2 separate regions of the Homo sapiens genome follow, and region 1 is linked to region 2. The links come from fine-mapping of genetic effects on gene expression. A gene starts in region 2. The other region holds a variant in brackets. All regions are shown on one strand. Distances are between the middles of the regions.

The links. PIP is the estimated chance that this variant, and not a neighbour inherited with it, causes the effect.
Region 1: its variant is fine-mapped to the expression of WDFY4 in whole blood (TOPMed, PIP 0.93).

Annotation. Positions count from the first base shown.
Region 1 is chr10:48,771,020-48,781,314 of GRCh38, forward strand. WDFY4 (WDFY family member 4) reads left to right here. Exons shown (of 62, transcript NM_001394531.1): 14 at 3,439-3,653; 15 at 4,693-4,787; 16 at 5,731-5,965; 17 at 6,400-6,476; 18 at 7,592-7,813; 19 at 8,922-9,100. Among named protein-coding and RNA genes, the nearest start is that of WDFY4, 91 kb to the left of the region's middle. The variant C/T (reference allele first, on the strand shown) is at 4,755.
Region 2 is chr10:48,678,648-48,688,942 of GRCh38, forward strand. It overlaps WDFY4 (WDFY family member 4), which reads left to right and starts at 6,226. Exons shown (of 62, transcript NM_001394531.1): 1 at 6,226-6,354. RefSeq lists silencers at 1,033-1,297, 5,448-5,497 and enhancers at 5,148-5,227, 6,158-6,457, 6,476-7,016.

The DNA.
Region 1 (10,295 bases), 92 kb after region 2:
AAAAGTTATTGAAGATGTCTTAGAGATGGGGATTTCTCTGAATGCCATCAGTGTGAGGCAAGAGCTACAGGGCCCATGTGTTTGGAAGGCAGGCGGGAGGCTGTGACAGGGGCCTGGGTGAGCCATCCAATTTTTAAAACAATCTAGAAATTGTTGATGAACAGTGTAAATATCTTTCTTCATACATTTTAATCCTTGAAACATATGTGCTACAAAACTGTGTTAGCTACATATGGAAGAACACTATCTTATTTCTGTCACTTAGTGCTAGCAACATACTCGACCATTTTTAGGAGGGAACCCCTCAAATGACTGCCCGCGTGGAGAGGAGATGGTGGAATGAGGTGACTCTGAGCAAGAGTCATGTGCTCTTGGCAATTTCCATCTCTGGGCTTAGCTTCCCCATCTGTAAAACGGGTATGATAATTGTGCCTCCCTCACAGGCTTCTCACAGTGATTGCATAATCCATACATGTCAAAATGCTTAGAAAAGGGCCTGCTGCAGCCTAAATACCCAGGAAATATTCTCATCCCAGGATAAAATTTGGCCCTCACAGTAGATGCCAGGCCTTGAGTCCCTTCTAACTTCAAGAGCCTTGTGAAATGTGTGAGAGGCTGCAGGGACCACCCCATCTGCTGTGCTCGATGTTGTAAATTCTCTGCTGGAGCACGTTTCAAACTGTGCTGGGACAATGTGTCTGCCCACGTGTATCACCTTTAATCTGTGAATCCCTTGAAAGCAGGGACAGTGTCTTATTCATCTTTAAACGCCTAGAGCTTTACCCAGAAGTTGATGTTGAGAGCCACTTCATTCTTGTTTGAGAAAGAATAGGAAGAGAGGAAGCAGGGAGGACTCCAAGAAAGCTCTTACTGGGTGGTGTAACAGGTGGTCTGTGATGTGAAGAGACCAGACCCTAGTCCTCCTTAGAAAGAGATTATTCAGGTAGTGCATTCACAGCTTCTCCTGGCTTCACTTTGGTGGTCTAGAACTCATTTACATGGCCATTGATCTCCTTTCTTGAAACTACAAACTGCGGCAAAGGTATAAAACATGGAAAGAATGCTGGTGCCTCAGGTCGGGTTCCCTGGGAGTGGAGCCTGAGACAGGGGTCCAGGTATGTGGGATTTGTTGAGGGAAGGACTCGGGAGGGAAGGAGAGTGAGGGAAGCCGGGCAGGGAAAGAGCTGAAGGAGGATGCGCTCACAGCAAAGTCTTGTCTCAGCCGGAGCCCCTGGGATTCTGAGGCATGAATTGCACAACACAGTCCCGAGGGCACTGGCCTCATTGGCTCCAGCCTGGAGTATGTGTGTGTGTGCACACAGGCATGTATGGTGTGTGTGGATGTGTGTGTGGACACATGTGCGTGTACCTGTGTGTATGGACGCGTGTGCGTGTGTATGTAAGTAGGGGGCATGTAAGTGTGTGTGTATGTGTATTTGGGTGGGTAGGGCTCCATGGCCCCTGGGCAGGGCAGCTCTTACCTAGTGGAGGGCAGTTCTTTTTTTTTTTTTTTTTTGCATTTTCTTTTTTTTTTTTTTTATTATACTTTAAGTTTTAGGGTACATGTGCACATTGTGCAGGTTAGTTACATATGTATACATGTGCCATGCTGGTGCGCTGCACCCACTAACTCGTCATCTAGCATTAGGTATATCTCCCAATGCTATCCCTCCCCCTTACCCCCACCCCACCACAGTCCCCAGAGTGTGCTATTCCCCTTCCTGTGTCCATGTGATCTCATTGTTCAATTCCCACCTATGAGTGAGAATATGCGGTGTTTGGTTTTTTGTTCTTGCGATAGTTTACTGAGAATGGTGATTTCCAATTTCATCCATGTCCCTACAAAGGACATGAACTCATCATTTTTTATGGCTGCATAGTATTCCATGGTGTATATGTGCCACATTTTCTTAATCCAGTCTATCATTGTTGGACTTTTGGGTTGGTTCCAAGTCTTTGCTATTGTGAATAATGCCGCAATAAACATACGTGTGCATGTGTCTTTATAGCAGCATGAGAAAAAAATGCTCATCATCACTGGCCATCAGAGAAATGCAAATCAAAACCACAATGAGATACCATCTCACACCAGTTAGAATGGCAATCATTAAAAAGTCAGGAAACAACAGGTGCTGGAGAGGATGTGGAGAAATAGGAACACTTTTACACTGTTGGTGGGACTGTAAACTAGTTCAACCATTGTGGAGGGCAGTTCTGCAGAGAAGGGGAAGCCGTGGCAGGTATACCTCTCATCTGGAGAAGGAGATCTGCATGGAGCACAGTAGCATCCACTGGGACAAGGAAAATTCCATTAAGATCTAACCTGTATCCCTCTCACTTGATACGACATCTTATCCAGCAACAAAAGAGAATGTGGACAGTCCTAAGAGTTTTTGTAAAGGAACATCCCACCCAATCCAAACCCTTTATCCAGCCTGGGAAGGATAATTCCAAAGATTTATCTTTTACAATGAAAGAATGATTGTAAAAGCAATGTGTGGTATTAGGCTCAAATATTTACTGAGCCCAGTCTATGCACTCTTTTCTATGTGCTTCAAAGGACATAAGCAGAGGGAAGTAGCTGGAAACCTAGTTCAGGGTTAAGATAAGAGCACAGCTATTCATGTGGCAGCATGTGCTTAGGACTGAGGGACAGGCACAGGATGATGGGAGGGTGGGCGGAGGGAGATGGCACCCAGGGGATGAGAGTGGCTTCAGCAAACGCTTCTCCCCAGAGACTTTAGTTGGCCTGCAGACTTTGAGTGTGGTTTGAGATGTCTGTGGTGGGGCCTGTATCTGTCAAGGCAGAGTGTGTATGTTTGGTAAGTGGTACTTCTTTTAGTCTTGTACTCCCAGGCAGATTCCACCTTTTACTCCGGGGGTGCGAACTCCAACACAGGAACTGTTAGGGGAGTAAAGCCAAGCTGGGGGGGATGTTGGACCCCTGGAGGGCACAGCTCCCACCCAGCACCAGCCACCTTCCCCCCACAGAGGTGCAAGCCAGCATGGCCAGATCGTCCCATCTTTTGAGAGAGGCCACAAGTCTGGATTTTTATGTGACATCTTCAGACTTTTCAATGCTAGCAGTTAATTCAGAAACTGCTGAAATATTGTGTGGGTCAAACACAGCACGTCTAAGAGGCAGACGCAGCCTCCTGCCTGCTGGCATGTGGCCTCCATCTTTAGCCATTGACCTCTCCCCACACTGACCTGGGCAGCTTGTGTCCTGCCAGAGGCTGCCTCCCACAGACTTGCCCCCCGCCAGGTGAGGAGGGCACTGGAAGAACCCTGAGACAGGCGTGGGTGTAGTGGGGATGGGGTATGGTGGGCGCAGTCTCCTTGTTCCACAACTCACCCCAGGCCAAGTTGGAGCCTATAAAAGCTGTCCACAAGGTGTTCTGCCCTGGAGGGCTCACAGCTTGCTTTGGTCACTCTTAGCTTTCCGAGGAGATCCAGTGCTCCCTGGCCAGTCATATCCAGTCCCTGGTGAAGTCGGAGAAGAACCGCCAGGTCATGTGCGAAGCAGGCTTGCTTGGGACCCTCATGGCCTCCTGCCACAGGGCCCTGGTCACCAGTGGCAGCCCCCTCCACTCACGCCTCATCAGGATCTTTGAGAAGCTCGCTTCCCAGGCCATTGAACCGGATGTGCTAAGGTACCACATGCTGCATATTCAGTGCCGCCAAGCTGGGCAGCCATGTCCTTTGCAGGGCAGGGGTTGCACAATGGGCAGTGGAGAGACTGCAGGGACAGATGGAGGGCACGGCTCTGTCCTGGCATTCAAGGCTGGAGTCCATGGCTGAGCCTTGGGTCTGTGCCAGGCAGTGTGCAGGTGCCCACAAAGCAGACATAGCCCCCTCTAATGGATCACGTGGGGGCTGGAGGGGGCTCCAAGGAAGTGGAGCTGCATTCCGAGGCCTGTAGAGTTCACTAGACAAAGAGAGGAGGGAACTGGGCCTGGAAGGCTCTGCCGGGAGGGGTGGGGCTGGGAGGGGCTGACTGTGTCCTGTAGGGAGTTGGGCAGTAAGCATGTAGGGACTGCAGACATGGAGGAGGATGGGGCAGAACCCACCTGGATCCTCCAGGGGGCTTTCCTGCTGTCAGCCTCTACATGAAGCCACATTCCTGGAGAGCCATGGCAGGGAGAGAAAGTGCAAAGGTGCACAGGGTGGGAAGCAGGGAGCAGACGTGGAAGACAAGAGAGCAGAGGGAAGGGAAGCTACTGGGGAGGGCAGGAGTCTCCTATGCCACCTGGAGTGCTGAGGGCCATGCACAGAGCGGGGGGCCCTGCTGCTTATACACAGGAGCAAGTGTAGAGGGCGCACAGACAGCCTTTCCAGCCAGCAGACATGGGACCCAGGGGCGGGCACGACAGCTGCCAGAGGAGGCTGCTGGTTATAGTGCTGCATGGGAAATTCCATTAGAAACTTATAAACAATTACTACAAATTTACTTTGTGACATTATTTTTTGTTATGACATCCATCTTGAGGCTCCTAAACTTACCAGCTCTCTGGTCTGGTCTGGCTGGCAGGGCAGAGACACCCTGTCTCCACATTGCTTTCAGAAAGGGTGTTCCAGTGGGGCTGGGAGGTCAGGGAGCTCCAGGCATCTAGGACAGTTGTCAGGATAAAGTTGGAGAACACTGTTGCTAGTAAAATGTCTTCATTTTTTCCTCTTGTATGTTATGTTCAGACAGTTTCTAGGTCTTGGAATTCCCTCATCTCTGTCGGCCACAACAAAAATCCTTGATTCAT[C/T]TCACACACACAGAGGCAACCCTGGGTGCTCAGGTGAGGACAGTGGCAAGAACGGGGCAGGTTAATGGGAAGTAAAAGATGATAGGCATTCCTGCTGAGGGATCCTTTACAACAGGTGGGAAAGCAAACAGGTTTAAACATGGTTTTGTCTGCTGCTCAATGCAGCAACTGAGGAAAAAGCAAAGAAATTCCTGGTCTCTGGAGAAAGACCATATCCAGATGGAGAAAGATGAACCCCCACCCAGACATATAAGACAGATGATCCCTTTGGGTTCCAGATCATGGAAGCAGAGACAGAGTTTCCTTCATGACACAGCAGTACGTGGCGCTGCACTAGACAGAGGTGTGCAGGGAAGGCTTCTGTACAGCTCACAGCTCAAGGGCATGTCAGAGCCTTGGAGGCCCAAGATGCAGGTGGTACCCCTGTGTCAGGCCTAGTACCTGGGGAATGTTGGCCAGGGAACCAGCTTAGAGAAAAGAAACTCGTGGACATCTTGAATGTAAGATCACATAAGACCTCAAGGAAACAGGCAGGCCCAGTGGAGAAGCAAGGGTGCGGGATCAGGCTTGGGGCTGACAGCTGCGGTGGGAGCCCAGAGCTTACAAGGAGAGGCTGCTGTGAAGGAAAGTGTGGGCTTTGTGAGCAGACACAAAGCTCCAGTGAGTAACTCCAATGGGGCAAGCCAGAGACAGAGGTGGCAGCAGTAGAATGTGCTATGCTGGAAAAGGGATCTGTGCTGGAATGAAAGAAAAGTTTCTAGAAGGAGCAGGTTAGCAACACCATTCCTTGTTATCAGACTCAGCAGGGGGCCCGGGCTGGGGGCCAGGGAGCCACCCTCGCTGGTGCTTAGGAAGTACCTGGTGACTGTGCGAAACTCTCTTTCTGGGCTGCGGCAGATACTTTGGGGTTATTGTCAGAAGCGAGACAGAAATGCTTTGAGCAGAGACACATCTCTTCTCTTGCTTGCTGCCCTAGGGTCACAGACTGCACAGGGCTTGGCTGAGGGGCCCTGGCCAGCTGCCCCAGATGCTGGGCTGCACCCTGGAGTCACACAGGCCCCGCAGCCCTTGGGGGAATCCCAGGATTCAACTACTGCTCTTCAGACGGCGCTGAGCCTCATCTCCATGACCTCCCCACGCAACCTGCAGCCTCAGAGGGCAGCCCTGGCCCCATCGTTTGTGGAATTTGACATGTCCGTGGAAGGTTATGGGTATGACAGGCTTTCACATATTTAAAATGCACTTTATTAATTTTGCAGTGCCTCTGATGAATTATAATATTGATTGCAAACTTGTAGTTCCCATTGAATCTCACCACTCAGCAGAGGAAAATGTCTGGGTCATGGACACCCGCCTACTCAGCGGCCTCCCAGGGGCTGTGTCCCCAGCTATGGAGGGCCAAGACCCTCTTTTCCCTGGTGTGGCTGCATTCTGGAACACCCTCCCATCCTGCCTGCAGTGCAATTCCTTCCCTTAGGCATCCTACCAGCACCAGCTGCAGTCCATCCTTGGGACCTTATGGTCTAAGGAGGGTTACAGTGCCGGCAGGAGGGTAGAGTGGGAAGATGTCATGGCCCAGACTAGCTGTGTCAGTGCAAGAGATTGGCTTGCAGTCCAATGATCTGAGACAATTTTCTATTTCCAGCTGTTTGTTTATTCCAACCCTGTCCACAGTTATGGGAACCAGCACTGAGTACTCTGTCTCTGGAGGAATTGGGACAGGTAGGTGTTTTTCCCAGATGGTTTAGCTCTCCATCCCTTCCAAAGTATGAGTCTTCAGATAGCCTTGATTGCAGATTTTTACTTGGTGTTTCAATAAAGTGTGAGCTGTGCTGGGCATGGTGGCTCACACCTGTAATACTGCAATTTGGGAGGCCAAGACAGGAGGATTGTTTGAGGCCAGGAGTTCCAGGCTGCAGTGAACTATGATTGAACCACTGCACTCCAACCTGGGCTACAGTGTAAGACCCAGTTTCAAAAAAAGAAAAGCAAACATGAGTCTTGCCTTGGTCCTGAGTATCTGCAGATGAGTTGTTCTTCAACTTTGCTCCTCTTTTAGAGCAAGATGTTCTGTTCATTGTGCATCCCAAGGGTCCAGCCTATAGCTAGGGACTCAATTGACATTGAAAAATTGGCTCATTTCGCTGGTGACTGATGTAGGCTGAGATGGACACATTACCTGCCTTAGATCTCTCTCTAGAGAGAAATATGAGTTGGGCTGATGGCCGTTGAGAATAGACCAATCTTTGGCAAGTGGCTTCTATGCACAGCACTGCACTTAGCTGAAAACACGCTGGGTGGGACAGTGCAAGTGCCTGATGCTGCCTGAGCCACACGCTCTGTTAGGAGAATTGGGTTTGGGGTTTCTATGGGATCATGGGTGCTGGGGAGCCATTGCCTTCATGACGTTTTTCCATGTGAGTTGGCACCAAGTCTGAGGACACAGCAGCTGATCCTGCCTGTTCTGTGAGGACAATGGACCTGTCTATATCGCCAACCCTGTTATGTGATGGGAGGGCACATGGCATTCCTAGATTGGTGCCCTTTCCTATCCAAGGTTCAGCTGAGCTAGGCCAAGGTCCTCTGCCCCACAGAGCACACTGCCTGGCTATAGATCAGCTGACCAGGAGCCCACGTGTGACGGACCTCAGGGAGATCGAGATCTTCTCTGCTCCCTTGGCAAGGCAGCATGCCATAATGGGGAGGAGACAACTGGTGATTAGGCAAGACACCCAGTAGGTGCTGCACCTGGGCTAAATCAGCACCATAGTGAATCTGAACATGCATGCTCAGCAGGGCAGAACAAAGCCTGAGGGCATGCCTGTGTTCCCACCCAGGTGCCACCAGACCGTTCCCTCCTCCTGGAGGTCTGACCTTCTCCTGCTGGTTCCTGATCAGCCGGCATGGAGCTGCCACTGAGGGCCACCCGCTGCGCTTCCTGACGTTGGTGCGCCACCTGGCCAGGACTGAGCAACCCTTTGTTTGCTTCTCCGTCAGCCTCTGCCCAGACGACCTCTCCTTGGTTGTTTCTACAGAAGAGAAGGAGTTTCAGCCTCTGGGTAAGGTGCTGGGATCCAAAGCCAGTTTCATCCACATGTGGGGGAAATGGGGCTAAGTCAGAAGCTCTCAACACAGGTGTGGTTAGAAACCTGGTGACCTTCTGTTTCTCCTCATCCTTTGAAATTGCTCCCTTGGGTTCCATACCTGGTGAAAGGTCTACAATATTTGTTGTGGTTCACTGTGGCCTGGGCTCTAGGCTTGTAAGTGTCAGGCAGATGAGGCCCCAGCCCTTGGCACAGCTTCAGAGATGATGCTCAGTGGCTTTTCAGAAACTTCGCCCTGGCAGAACAGTCACAATGGGACCCAGGGCTTTGCCTTGCTGGGACACAGGCTGCATCCTCTCCTGAGTGAGGTTTGTGAAGAACACACACAATTTAGCTGGAGCCGAAGCAGCTACAGACATATAGGCGCTCCCACATATGCTCAACCCCAAACCCAGAAGGCTGGCCCATGCTTGGCATGGCGCCCAGGGCCACCCCTCCTTTGGCAGTGCTAGAGGCCAGCCCTGGCTCTGCCCTTTGGAGCCCAGCGTTGTTCTCCAGGCTCATTTGCCTGAGATGGTCAAGTCCAGTGGATTCTGTCCACTTGTTCTTCTCCTGTGTCCTGAGAGTGTCACTGTTTCATAGGGAAAAACATTGGGAGGCCCTATGAAACAGTGGAAGCGGCTGACACCCTTGTACACAGCACAACTGCCTATCCAACTCTCTGGGACTCGGCCTACAATGGAGTCTCTGTGGAGGTAGTCTACCTTGGGATAGACCTGAAGCCTGGCTTCTGGGTTTGAATCCTGGCTGTATGACCTTGGGCAAGTCACCCAACCTCTCTGTGCCTCAGGATGGTAAATTGGGCATGTATGAGCGCCTACCTCACAGGGCTGTGAACATGACATGAGTTGATATTTGTAACATGCTTAAAACTGGCACAAAGGAAGAGCTCAAAGAATGACTGCTGCTATTGCTGCTGCTGTTGTCATTTTTCATGAGAGGAGGATCTAGGGCTCCATGGTACAAGGCCCAGTGGTTGACGTCCGCCTATGCCCTCCCCATTCTCCTGGGTTCCTGCAGTGTAGCACCACACGTGAGACTCAGTGTTCATGCTGTCTTCCAGATGTCATGGAACCTGAGGATGACTCCGAGCCTTCTGCAGGATGCCAGCTTCAGGTCAGGTGTGGCCAGCTCCTGGCTTGTGGTCAGTGGCATCACTTGGCTGTGGTTGTCACTAAGGAAATGAAAAGGCATTGTACAGTTTCCACCTGTCTGGATGGACAGGTCATTGGCTCTGCCAAGGTGAGATGGCTCCTCCAAGCTGCACTTGCCCCACAACCATACCTCCTGCTACTACCCTGAAGTGGCCTCGGTTTCATTCTATGTTTTTGTTGTTGTTTGTTTGTTTGTTTATTACTGGTAGGGTTGGCATCTAATGAAATCTGCCTTACTGTTCAGGAAACTTGGCTGAGTTCAGACATGAAAAGGACATCTTTAGAAAATGCATTGAAGGTCACGCTACCAGGGCAGAAGGCAAGACATGCATCCAGGTCTCTAAGAATAGTCATGTTCATGAAAATAGAAAACTCCAGAATGAACAAAGCAAAGCTTCTCATTTTGAGGGGCAAACTCCTCAGGGAGGTCTGGGCAGGGCCTAAGGTATGACTTTTCCAAGAAGCTCCCAGGTGAGGCCAACGCAGCTCATCTTTGCACCACACGGAGGAGCAGGACACTAGAGTGGGCAGACACCAACACGTGTCGTCAGATTTAGAGCAAGAACCATGAGGAAGGTAATAGAATGCAAATGTATAGCTGGAGGAAGCATCTCATGGCTGTCATTTAGAGACACCCCAGGTATAAGAGAAAGCTGGGAAAAGGTGGAGCTGGCAGGCGCCAGCAGCCATTGTCAGAGAAGAGAGGGCCCGGAGGACCATAGAAGGCAGGTAGGGCTGGATTTTCACACAAGTTCCAGGGAGAGCATCCCAAGCTGGCTGCATTTTAAAATCACCTGCAAAGGCTTTTTAAAGTTCTCTTGCACAGGCTGCACCCAGAATAATTACATCAGAATCTCTCTGGGTCAGGTAATTTGACAACTTACTAATGTTTGTAAAATTTTCTAGGTGATTCTAATATGCAGCCAGAATGGAGAACCTTACATACACAGGGTTTCTGGATTCCCCCTAAATGCCATAGTGTTCCTCCCCTGACCTTGCCCAGTTGTGACCACCAGTAACATCTCCAGACATTTCCAAATATACCCTGGGGGTCAAAGTTGTTCCAGGTTAAGAGTCATCAGATGAGAACAAATTCTTAGTCCCAAATTCTGTGGGACACATATAGGTGAATTTGATACCATCTGCTGGTAAAGTTCTGTTATCAAAAAAAGGCAGTGATGACCAAATATATATATATGTGTGTGTGTGTGTGTATATATATATGTGTGTGTGTGTATATATATATATGTGTGTGTGTGTGTATATATATATATGTTTTTTTG
Region 2 (10,295 bases):
TCTCAGTGGGCTCCTTTTGAGTTTTATGTTAACTCTACCAATATGGAGTTGGATCTTCAGGCCAGCTTTGAAAATTATGACAGAATTCGCTCATTTGTAGTTTTCCAATCCTCCCTCCTTCCTCCAAGTCTCATGGGATGTCAACAGTGGTATTGATCATTTCTTCTGCAGGCTCCAGGTGTCCTGTGGGTTTATCTTCCATTTGCACCAGTACTCACATCTCCCTGAAAGTACAATCTGATGGTGGGATCCTCTCTCTTTTTCTGGAGTTAATTACTATCCCCTTGGGGAATATGGAAATGCAACCAGCACACAGGAAGCTGCTTTCTCTCCAGGTTTGTTAAACATGTCCTGTTGCTGTGTAAATAGTTTTCTTTTTTTCTCCCAAGATGGTATAGAAAATACATTGTAATAATGAAGTAGGGAAGTGCTTGCAATGAATTAAGTGAAAGAAAAACCCAACCAATTATGAAGGGGAATATATGGCATGATTCCCATTTGTTAAGAACAAAAAATAAGACCAAAGAAATATACTTTGGTAAACATGGAAAAAAAGACTGAAATGCTATTGCTCAGCATAGGGTATTAGTGAGTTTTATTTTATTCCTTCTTCTTTTTATTTTTACATACTATTTAGAATTAACATGCTTCATTTTAAAAGTCAGAAAAATATTTATTTTTAAAAGTATTAACTTTTTAGTATATGGCCCTGATAAGTGATGGTAAGTGCTCTGAAGAGATCATAGTGGAGACCGACAGCCTACCAAAATGCATTCTCTCTAATAACAGGATCGAGGCTGGCCCATGGCTGGTCTACACTTCCCAGTCTTCCTTGCAGCTCGATATGGCCATGTGGTTACAATAGCATGTGAGCCAAAGCGATGTAGACCACTCAGAGGCTGGGCCTTTATGGGCAGAGGTATGTCTTGTCTTGTCCACTCCCTTTCCTTTTTTACAGGCTGGATGCAGACGACAAGGCTATATGGGACAATGGAGCAATATTCCTAAATTGCTATATGGGGGAGAACCACCTGCCAACTTGAACAACTGGTGTAGACTGCTCTGCAGCAAGGAAGTAAACTCCATAGCAGCTCTGCTCTGTTCATCATTGTTTCTTCAGGGCCTACCTGGGACCTGGCACAGAGGAGATGCTCTGTGTGTGTTTGTTGATTGGAACTAAACTTTTACTTTTCTGACATCTTTGTCACAAAGCCATGAAGAAATTACATATCCTTATGACAATTTACTTAGAGTAAATAAAATACTATTTTTGTGTAAAATGTGAGATTGCAACAATATGCTTCCATTGATTTCTCAGTCTTTGGTGCTGTAGTTGTGAAATACATTCTATCCACGTATGCTATCAACTCCAAAGTACAGCACTGCAATTTTCACTTTAAGCAGTCATAGTCTTTTAAAGAAGTTAAAATAATGAAAAGTACATGGTTTGTTTTTATTTACTCACACATTTGCTATTAATAGTGCTTTTCTTTTTTTCCTATAGATCCAAGTTTCCATCTGGCATCTTTTCCCTTCAGCTTCAAAAACTGCCTTTAGAATTTCTTATATTGCAAGGATGCTGGAGATGAATGATCTCAGCTTTTATTCACCTGAAATGAATGTATTTTATTCTCATTTTTACAGAGACATTCATTGGCTATTGAATTATTGGTTAACAATTTTTGTTGTTTTCCTTTAGCATATTAAAGATGTCTTTCTATTCTCTTATGGCATTCACTGCTTCTGATAAAACATCAGCCTTAAATAGTATTTTTGTTTCTCTTTGGGTAATATTTTTTTCTTTCTGACTGCTTTCTTGCTCTCTGACTGTTTTAAGATAATACATTTGTTTCTGATGTTTGACTATGATGTGCTAAGTGTGTTTTTTCTTTGCACTTGGTGATGCTTGAGTTTTACTAAATTTATCATGTCTGCAATTTGCCGTTTTTCAATAAACCTGGGAAATTTCAAACATCATTTCTGCAAATGTGCTTTTCTGCCCTCCTCTCTCTCTGAGACCCCATTTACACATATATTATACCATTTCATATTGTCCCAAGAGCAGCTGAGTTTGTTTTTTTTCATCAATATTTTCCCCCTCTGTCCTTCAAATTGTATAATTTTTATTAATAAGTCTTTAAGTTCATTAACCCTTTTTTTCCTGTGGCCACCAATTTGCTGTTGGTCTATCAGTAAAATTTTTACTTCAGATATACTTTTCAGTTCTAGAATTTACATTTGAATCTTCTTGTATTTTCGATTTTTTTTTTTTTTGCTGAAATTTGCCTGCTTTTTTTTTAAGTTCCTGAATATATTTCTGATAGCTGCTTTAAAGTTCCTGTGAAATAATTCCAACATCTGGTTCATCTTGGGGTCTATTTCTATTGACAGTTTTTTATTTCTTGTTATGGGTTACATTCTTTTGCTTTTTCAGATTTCTACTAATTTTAACTCTATGCTAGATAGCATGGATGTTAAATTGAAAGGAGGCTGCATTAAGTTTTCTTCCTTTAAAGCATCTTGAGTTTTGTTCTGGTTGGCAGTTAAATTCCTTGGCTGCAGTGGCTCACACCTGTAATCTCAGCACTTTGGGAGGCTGAGGTGATGGGATCGCTTGAGCTCATTAGTTTGAGACCAGCCTGGCCAACACGGTGAAACAGTGTCTCTATTAAAAGCACAAAAAATCAGCTGGGCATGGTGGCACGTGTTTATAATCCCAGCTACTTGGGAGGCTGAGGCATGAGAATTGCTTGAAGCCAGGAGGTGGAGGTTGCAGTGAGCCGAGATCACCCCACTGCCCTCCAGCCTGGAGGACAGAGCCAGACCGTCTCAAAAAAAATTACTGGAATATCCTTTTAATTCTGTCAGTCTTGCTTCTTTTATTCTTTGTTTGGTTGTATTAGGGTCCTCCAGAGAGACAGAACCAATTGGATATACATATATATATATATATATATATATGTATATGTGTGTATATATCTATATATATACATGCCTGCTCTTGTTTGTTTATTTCTTTATGTATTACAAGGAATTGGCTCATATGATTATAGAGGATGAGAAGTCTTAAGATCTTCAGTCAACAAACTGGAGACCCAGAAGAGCCAATGGTGTAAGGTCCAGTCTGAGTTCAAAGGCCTGAGAATCAGAAGAGCCAGTGTTGTAAGTGTTCCAGTCCAAGGGCAGGAGATGACTGATGTTCCATCTCAAGGAGTCAAGCAGCCAAAGTGTCCTCTTACTCAGCCTTCTGTTCTATTCAGGTCTTCAACCGATTGGAAACCACCCATGCATATTAGGGAGAACAGTCTGCTTGACTCAGCCTACTGATTCGAATGTTCATCTCATCCAAAAATACCCTCACAGACATGCCCAGAATAATGTCTCGCCAAATGTTTGGGCACCTCATGGCCCAGTCAAGTTAACTCATAAAAGTAACTTATCACATGGAGCTATTTTATTTCAATTTTGAACTTGTTCCAACTTTATGGCTTTTATTCTAGGCTGTGGTTCTTACTTCTTCAGTGTGGAGTCTGAGCTTCAGAGTTTTATGGTTTTAAATTTCCTCTCATCATTACCTTCATGTTTAGCCTGCAGGAGGACTCCTCTGATTGGTGTTTCAAGTTTGGTCTGCGGATTGGGGAGGAAGGAATACAAGAGGGCAGCTCTGAGCTTGGTGGGGTGAGGGCTCTGAGGTGTAAAGTGAAGTCCCACAATGCTCAGCAAGGTCTCTCCACACTCCATGGGATGCGACTGCAACATTCCAAGCACTGCACATTCTCTGTTACCTCCTTCAGTGCTCGGCCTTGGGTCAGTTGACCTCTGCTGGGTCTCTTGGAGTCTCACCCTGTGCACACATAGGAATCCTTGGCCAAGGGCACACACAATGAGTTCCCACAAGGCACACTCTCCTCAGGAACCTGCCCTGAACATACCAGAGCCTTCAGCAGCTTTGAACTCTGACTTAAACCTTTTCAGTTCAGGGAGACTACTGTCTCTGGGGCCCCACCTGCCTGCATCATAGCAGAAAAAGCATCACTAGAAAAAACTCCAGGGCAATTGTGGGGCTCACCTTGTGTGTTTTCCTTATCTCAAGGATCACAGTCTTGCTATTCAATGCCTGAAAACAATTATCTTGTGTATTTGAACTATTCTATAGTTGCTTTCAATGGGAGGGTATGTCCTATACCAGTTACACCACCATAACTGGGTGCAGAAGTAAAACTGCCATTTTGGGGCAATTGTTTAAAAATCAGAGAATCTTACATTGCCCTTTAACAAAAATACACATTTACATTAGCAGTTCATAGTTGCCCTGGCTGCTTCAGTGTCTTAGCTTTGGCAACTCTCTCACTAATAATAGCTTGCATTTGCACAGCCCTTTTCAGTATTTAAAAACTCTCTTGGCCGGGTGCGCTGGCTTACGCCTGTAATCCCAGCACTCTGGGAGGCCGAGATGGGCGGATCACGAGGTCGGGAGATCGAGACCATCCTGTCTAACACGGTGAAACCCCGTCTCTACTAAAAATACAAAAAATTAGCCAGGCGAGGTGGTGGGCGCCTGTAGTCCCAGCTACTCAGGAGGCTGAGGCAGGAGAATGGCGTGAACCCCGGGGGGCGGAGCCTGCAGTGAGCCGAGATCGCGTCACTGCACTCCAGCCTGGGCGACAGCGAGACTCCGTCTCAAAAAAAAAAAACCTCTCTTGCAAATATTATTTGATTTGTTCCTTCTAACAAGGCATTCATTCATTCTGCAAATAAGATGTCAATTATCTCAGTTAAGATAGTGAGAATTTCAACCTTGAGTTTCTAGCTCTGAATTTAGTGCTCTTTACCTGCCTGCTGCTGGCTACCCGGCAAGGTGCTGGGGTGGGTAGAAGGTAGGAGACCTGGGTGCAGGTGGGCCCTCCAGCAGACTTTGCGAGATCCCACTATGACAGACTCTCCGCGCTTCCTCTGGGCATTCACAGGCATGGGGTCCTGGCCTGTCCCATGCTGGCCACCCTTCCTGCCTCTGTGGAAGTTCCTCTGTCTAATCCGCTCTTACCATAGGCCTCTGATTTCAGGCAATATCTTCTTGTAGATTTTATTTATGATTTCATTGGTGACAATGACGAGGGGTTTTCATCATATACAACAAACACTTCACTGCAAATTCTCTAAGGTTTTCTCTTTCCCTTGGCTGGCACTGCATGTATCCTTTCAATTTCTCTTTTCTTTTCTTTTTTTTCTTTTTTTTTTTTTTGAGACGGAGCTTCGCTCTTGCTGTCCAGACTGGAGTGCAGCTGGATAGATCTCCTATTTTGGCTGCTGTCTACTGACAAGTTTGCACTGGTGGAGGTTGAGGTTTTGTGACAAATGTTATTTTCCTCTTTAAACCAATCTTGGAGCTTTACTCCATGTCATAACAAGTGATGTTGTTGCTGCCTCTCAGTCAGTCATGCATGGTCCACTGGTTTTGTGAGCTAGAGACAAGCGATGAGCTGCACTGAGGATCAAGGATCAGGCATTAGCGCTAACAAGTGCCCTTGCTCTTTGGCAAAATTCTCCTTTTACAGAGCACAAGCAGGATTGTGTGTGAATGGACATGCTTGTTTGTACTGTGGAGATGACGTTATGGATAGGTGACATGGATAATTCAGCCTAGTTTATATACTCAGAGGAATGAGAATTTGGAGTCTGAGTTTCAGAGACTTCCATTCTATGGTTTTAGATGTCCTCTCATCCTTGCCTCAGTGTTGGCCGCAGGAGGACTCCCCTCATTGGTGGTTCAAGTTCTATCTGAGGATGGGGGAGGAAGAAATCCAAGTGGGCAACTCTGAGCTTGGTGGGGTGAGGGCTGCCCAACCCATGCCATGTCCAGGGGTGCACTTAAACACACCTCTGATTAGATTCACCTAACACCATCATTGTTCTCATTTTGCCAGAGGCCCAGAGAGGAGAGGTGTGCACCAGTGGTCACACGGCTAGTGAAGAGGGGACACAGAATCCAGACCTACTCTTCTAGGGCTGGGCTGTACTTTCCATTTTGTCCTTGGCCCCAACCAGCACCGCTTGACCACGGAGGCTGCACAGCCAGCCCCAAGGGGCCTTGCTGCAGAACCCAAGTCACCCGCCAGAACTCCAGCAGCTCCGTGGTCGGCTGGAGAGTGGGCAGAGTCAGGCATCTGCCGGCTCTCCACTTCTGCTTTCTCCAGGAAATGAGCAGAGACCCAGCTCCAGTGATTCAGAGTGAAACGGCGCTGAGGACTGACGATGTGGGGCCGGGTCCTCTTCCCCCGAGCCTGAGGGGCTGCAGCTGGGGATAGGGGGCCCATGCCTTCTGATGTCTACAGGCGCTGACGGCCACCCCTCCAGGTAGGCCACCTTGCTCTTGGCCCAGCCAGGCCAGCCTAGAGGTGGGCATATGGGCGCCGCCTGTCAGCGTGGGGCCTACTGGCTGCCTCCTGGGAGGCTGACTATGGGGCACATGTGACCCAGTGCCTGGTTTGGGTTTGTGAATGTGGGAGAGGAGGTGAGCTGGGGAGCAGGAAGTGTGTGTGGCGTGGGGGGCCCATGTGGTCAGGGCCACTCCAGGGCCTGGGTCTGCCTGAGTGTGTGTCACTGCTGAAGTTTGGGAGTCAGGCTGGGCTCCAGCAGCACTCCTCGACCTCTGACGGTAGGTCAAGTCCTTTCTCGGGGTCCTGCTATGAAGGGAACCCTGGGAAGGGCTGACACGGGCTTTCCTGGTTGTCGAGGGGGCGGAGAGAGCAGGCCGACAGGACAGTGAGGCTCGCCCTCCAAGCTCCCTCATAGGCCTCTGAGGAGTGCAGAGTTGGAGGGCCATTTCCAACGGGCCTCAGAGGGAGCTGGTCTATCCCGGCCCTGTCATTACTCCACTGGGTTCTGGTAAGTAGGTGCCTCCCTGGGCTCACTTCCCTCATCTGAATTATTACAGCAAACCATTGAAACGCCTGCATTTTCTGCCTAAGCAGGGCCACCTGCTCAGTAAGGACTGATTCTTCTTTTCCCCTGAAATGAAACTTCTAGAACACTAAACCGATCCTTTGTCCCAACTCATCTAAAGTGTGGGGGGGCTGGTTTGATAACTAAGGGCTCTATGCATTACCCTTTCCATGGAGCACACTAATTTTAATATGAGTTTATGTATAGTCATTCATTTAGTTATTTAACAAATAGGTATTGAGAAACCACGCCCTGCCAGGCTCTGGTCAAAGCGGACAGGGGTCTACGGTGCTCAGCAGGTGGGAGAATAGCAGGTAGGGTGGGGGTCTTGGGAGGGTGGGGATGGCTCTAGTCTTCTGAGAGGGGACCTGTGAGGGAGGCCGAGTCCTGTGGGTTTCTGAGAAGTGTTCTTGATAAGGGTCTGGAGGAGGAGACCTCGTGGAGGTTGGTGTGGCAGAGCCGGGTAAGGGGCATGCCTGGGGTTCTGGCCAGAGAGGTAGGGAACAGGGTCAGGTCAGGGAGGCCCTTCCTGTCTGTCCATCCTGAGCACATGGGCTATTCTTTCATGAACTTGGAAAGATTTTCTGTGTTGAAAGAAAAGAAAATTTCGGCCAGGCGCAGTGGTTCACGCCTGTAATCTCAGCACTTTGGGAGGCTGAGAGGGGCAGATCACCTGAGGTCAGGAGTTCAAGACCAGTCTGGACAACACGATGAAACTCCATCTCCAAAAAAAAAAAAAAAAAAGAAGGAAAGAAAAGAAAATTTAGAAAGACCATAATAAGATAGAAGTAATAAAAACAGCATAAACCCTGTGTGCTGACACCTTAGATTTTTTTAAAGATCAGCATCATCTCTGAGGTCCTCTTCATGCCCATCTTTCACCTTCCCTCTTCAGAAGCAGCAACAGTCCAGAATTTTGGGTTTATTGTTCCCTTGCTTCTTTTTCTAATTTTACATCCCATATTTAAATCGCTATATATGTATGATTGCAAGTTGTTGAACTCTGTAAACATGGAATTAAATATTCTTTTAAAATTTGCCTAATTGGTTCAAAAGTTTGTTTCTGAAATTTCTTCATATTGTTGCATGTACCTGTAGATAATTAAAGTTTTCTGCAGTACAGTATTCTATTAGATGAGTGTACCTCAATATATTTATCTGAGATGCTGTTGATGGCATTTTAGGTATTTCAAGAGTTTATTTTTTTTTCTATTATAAGCAGTGCCGCTAGAACTATTTTTGTACATGCATCTTGGGGCATGTGTGCAAGAATTTATCTTGGGTATATACTCTAGAAATAGAATTGGTGGGTCATAGGTTGTACATATCGTCAGCCTTACTGGATGTCACCACGTTGTTTTCCAAAGTTTTTGCCTCATTTTACCCACCCCTCAGCAATGCACCAAAGTTTCTGTTGCTCCACTTCTTCATCAGCATTTGATATTGTCTGGTACTGTATTTCTGCCAATCTGGTAGAAATGAAAAGCTATCTTAGCATGTTTTTAATTTGCATTGACCAAATTACTAAGGTTGGACATCTTTTTCATATGTTTATTGGCCATTTGGGGTCCCTTTTCCTGTTCACATTTTTTGGCCATTTCTCATCGGGTTACCTGTCTTTTATCCTATTGATTTGCCATAATTCAATACATATTCTGGGTACTACTTTTTGTCATTTATATATATAACAAATATTTTTCATTTGTTGGTGCCTTGTCTCCTTATATTCCTGTGGTTTTTATTAATGACTGAATTTCTTAGTTTCAAATAAGTTTATCCACCTGTCGCTTTATGATTTATACTTGTTATGTGTTATCTAAGAAATTCTCCACTATAAGGTTGTAAAATTATTCTCATATTATTTTCAAAAAATGTTATAATATTACTTTTTACACTGAAGTCTCTAGTCTGCCTGGAAATGGCTTTTGTGTATGGCGTGAGGTGGGAAGAAACTTTATTTTATTCTGCTTTTCCCATATGGATAACCAAGAGTCTTGGCACCATTTATTTAATAGGCCATTCTTTTTTTTTTTTTTTTTTTTTGAGATGGAGTCTTGCTCTGTCACCCAGGCTGGAGTGCAATGGCATGATCTTGGCTCACTGCAACCTCCACCTCCCAGGTTCAAGCAATTATCCTGCCTCAGCCTCCCTAGTAGCTGAGATTACAGGTACATGCCACCACACCTGGCTAATTTTTTTTTTTTTTTTTTGAGACAGATTCTTGTTCTGTCACCCAGGCTGGAGTGCGGTGGTGCGATCTCAGCTCACTGCAACCTCCACCTCCCAGGTTCAAGCGATTCCTCTGCCTCAGCCTCTCCAGTAGCTGGGACTACTGGCGTGCGCCACCACATCTGTCTAATTTTTGGGTTTTTTAGTAGGGATGGGGTTTCACTGTGTTGGTCAGGCTGGTCTTGAACTCCTGACCTCAGGTGATCCACCCACCTCGGCCTCCCAAAGTGCTGGGATTACAGGCATGAGCCACCACACCCGGCCTAATAGGCCATTCTTTAGTCACTGATCCATGATAGCTCTGTTGTGAGTTGAGTTGTCATGTGCATGGGGGTCTTTCCTGGTTCTCTATTCTGTCAATTTGTCTAACCCTTTGACAATGCTAGACAACATTGTTAACCACAGGTTTATAATAAATTTCGGTATCTGGAAAGAGCCTCCCCATTCTTTTCTTCTTCCATCCTGTCTTGAGAATTCTTGGTATTTTACTCATTCATATAAATTTCAGAATTGGCTTTCAACAGAAAAAAAAACTATGTTCAGATTTGACTGGAAATATAATTTGGAAAGAAGTGATATCTTTATGAAAATGACTTTTCCAATTCATAAACGTGGTCTGTCTCTCCACTTATTTAGGTCTTCTCTAAAGTATTTAAATACAATGTTACTATTTTCTTTATAGCAGTAGTGCATATTTTGACTAGACATATCCCTAAGTGGTTTATATTTTTATATTGTGTCAATTGTCATTAAAATACATTTTTGGACTGTTGCTATTTGGACTGATTCTTGTTCAAAATGCAAGCATTTTAAACAAGAATCATTTTAGGTGTCATGTGAAGATTGTAGGAGACCAAAGGAAGAAGCAAGACTATCAGTTCAGAGGCTTTTGCAATAACCCAGGCTAGAGGTGGTGGTGGCTTGCCCCAAAGTGATAATAGTTGAGATAATGACAGGTGGTCAGAGTGGTCAGATTCTAGATACTTTTTTGAGGGTAGGATTTGATGACATTTTAGGTATAGAGCATGGGAGAAAGAGAGAAGCTAAAGATGACTCCAGAGTAACAGGAAGAATGAGATTATCACCTACTGAGCTGGCTTGAGGGCAGTAGAAGCAGATTTGGA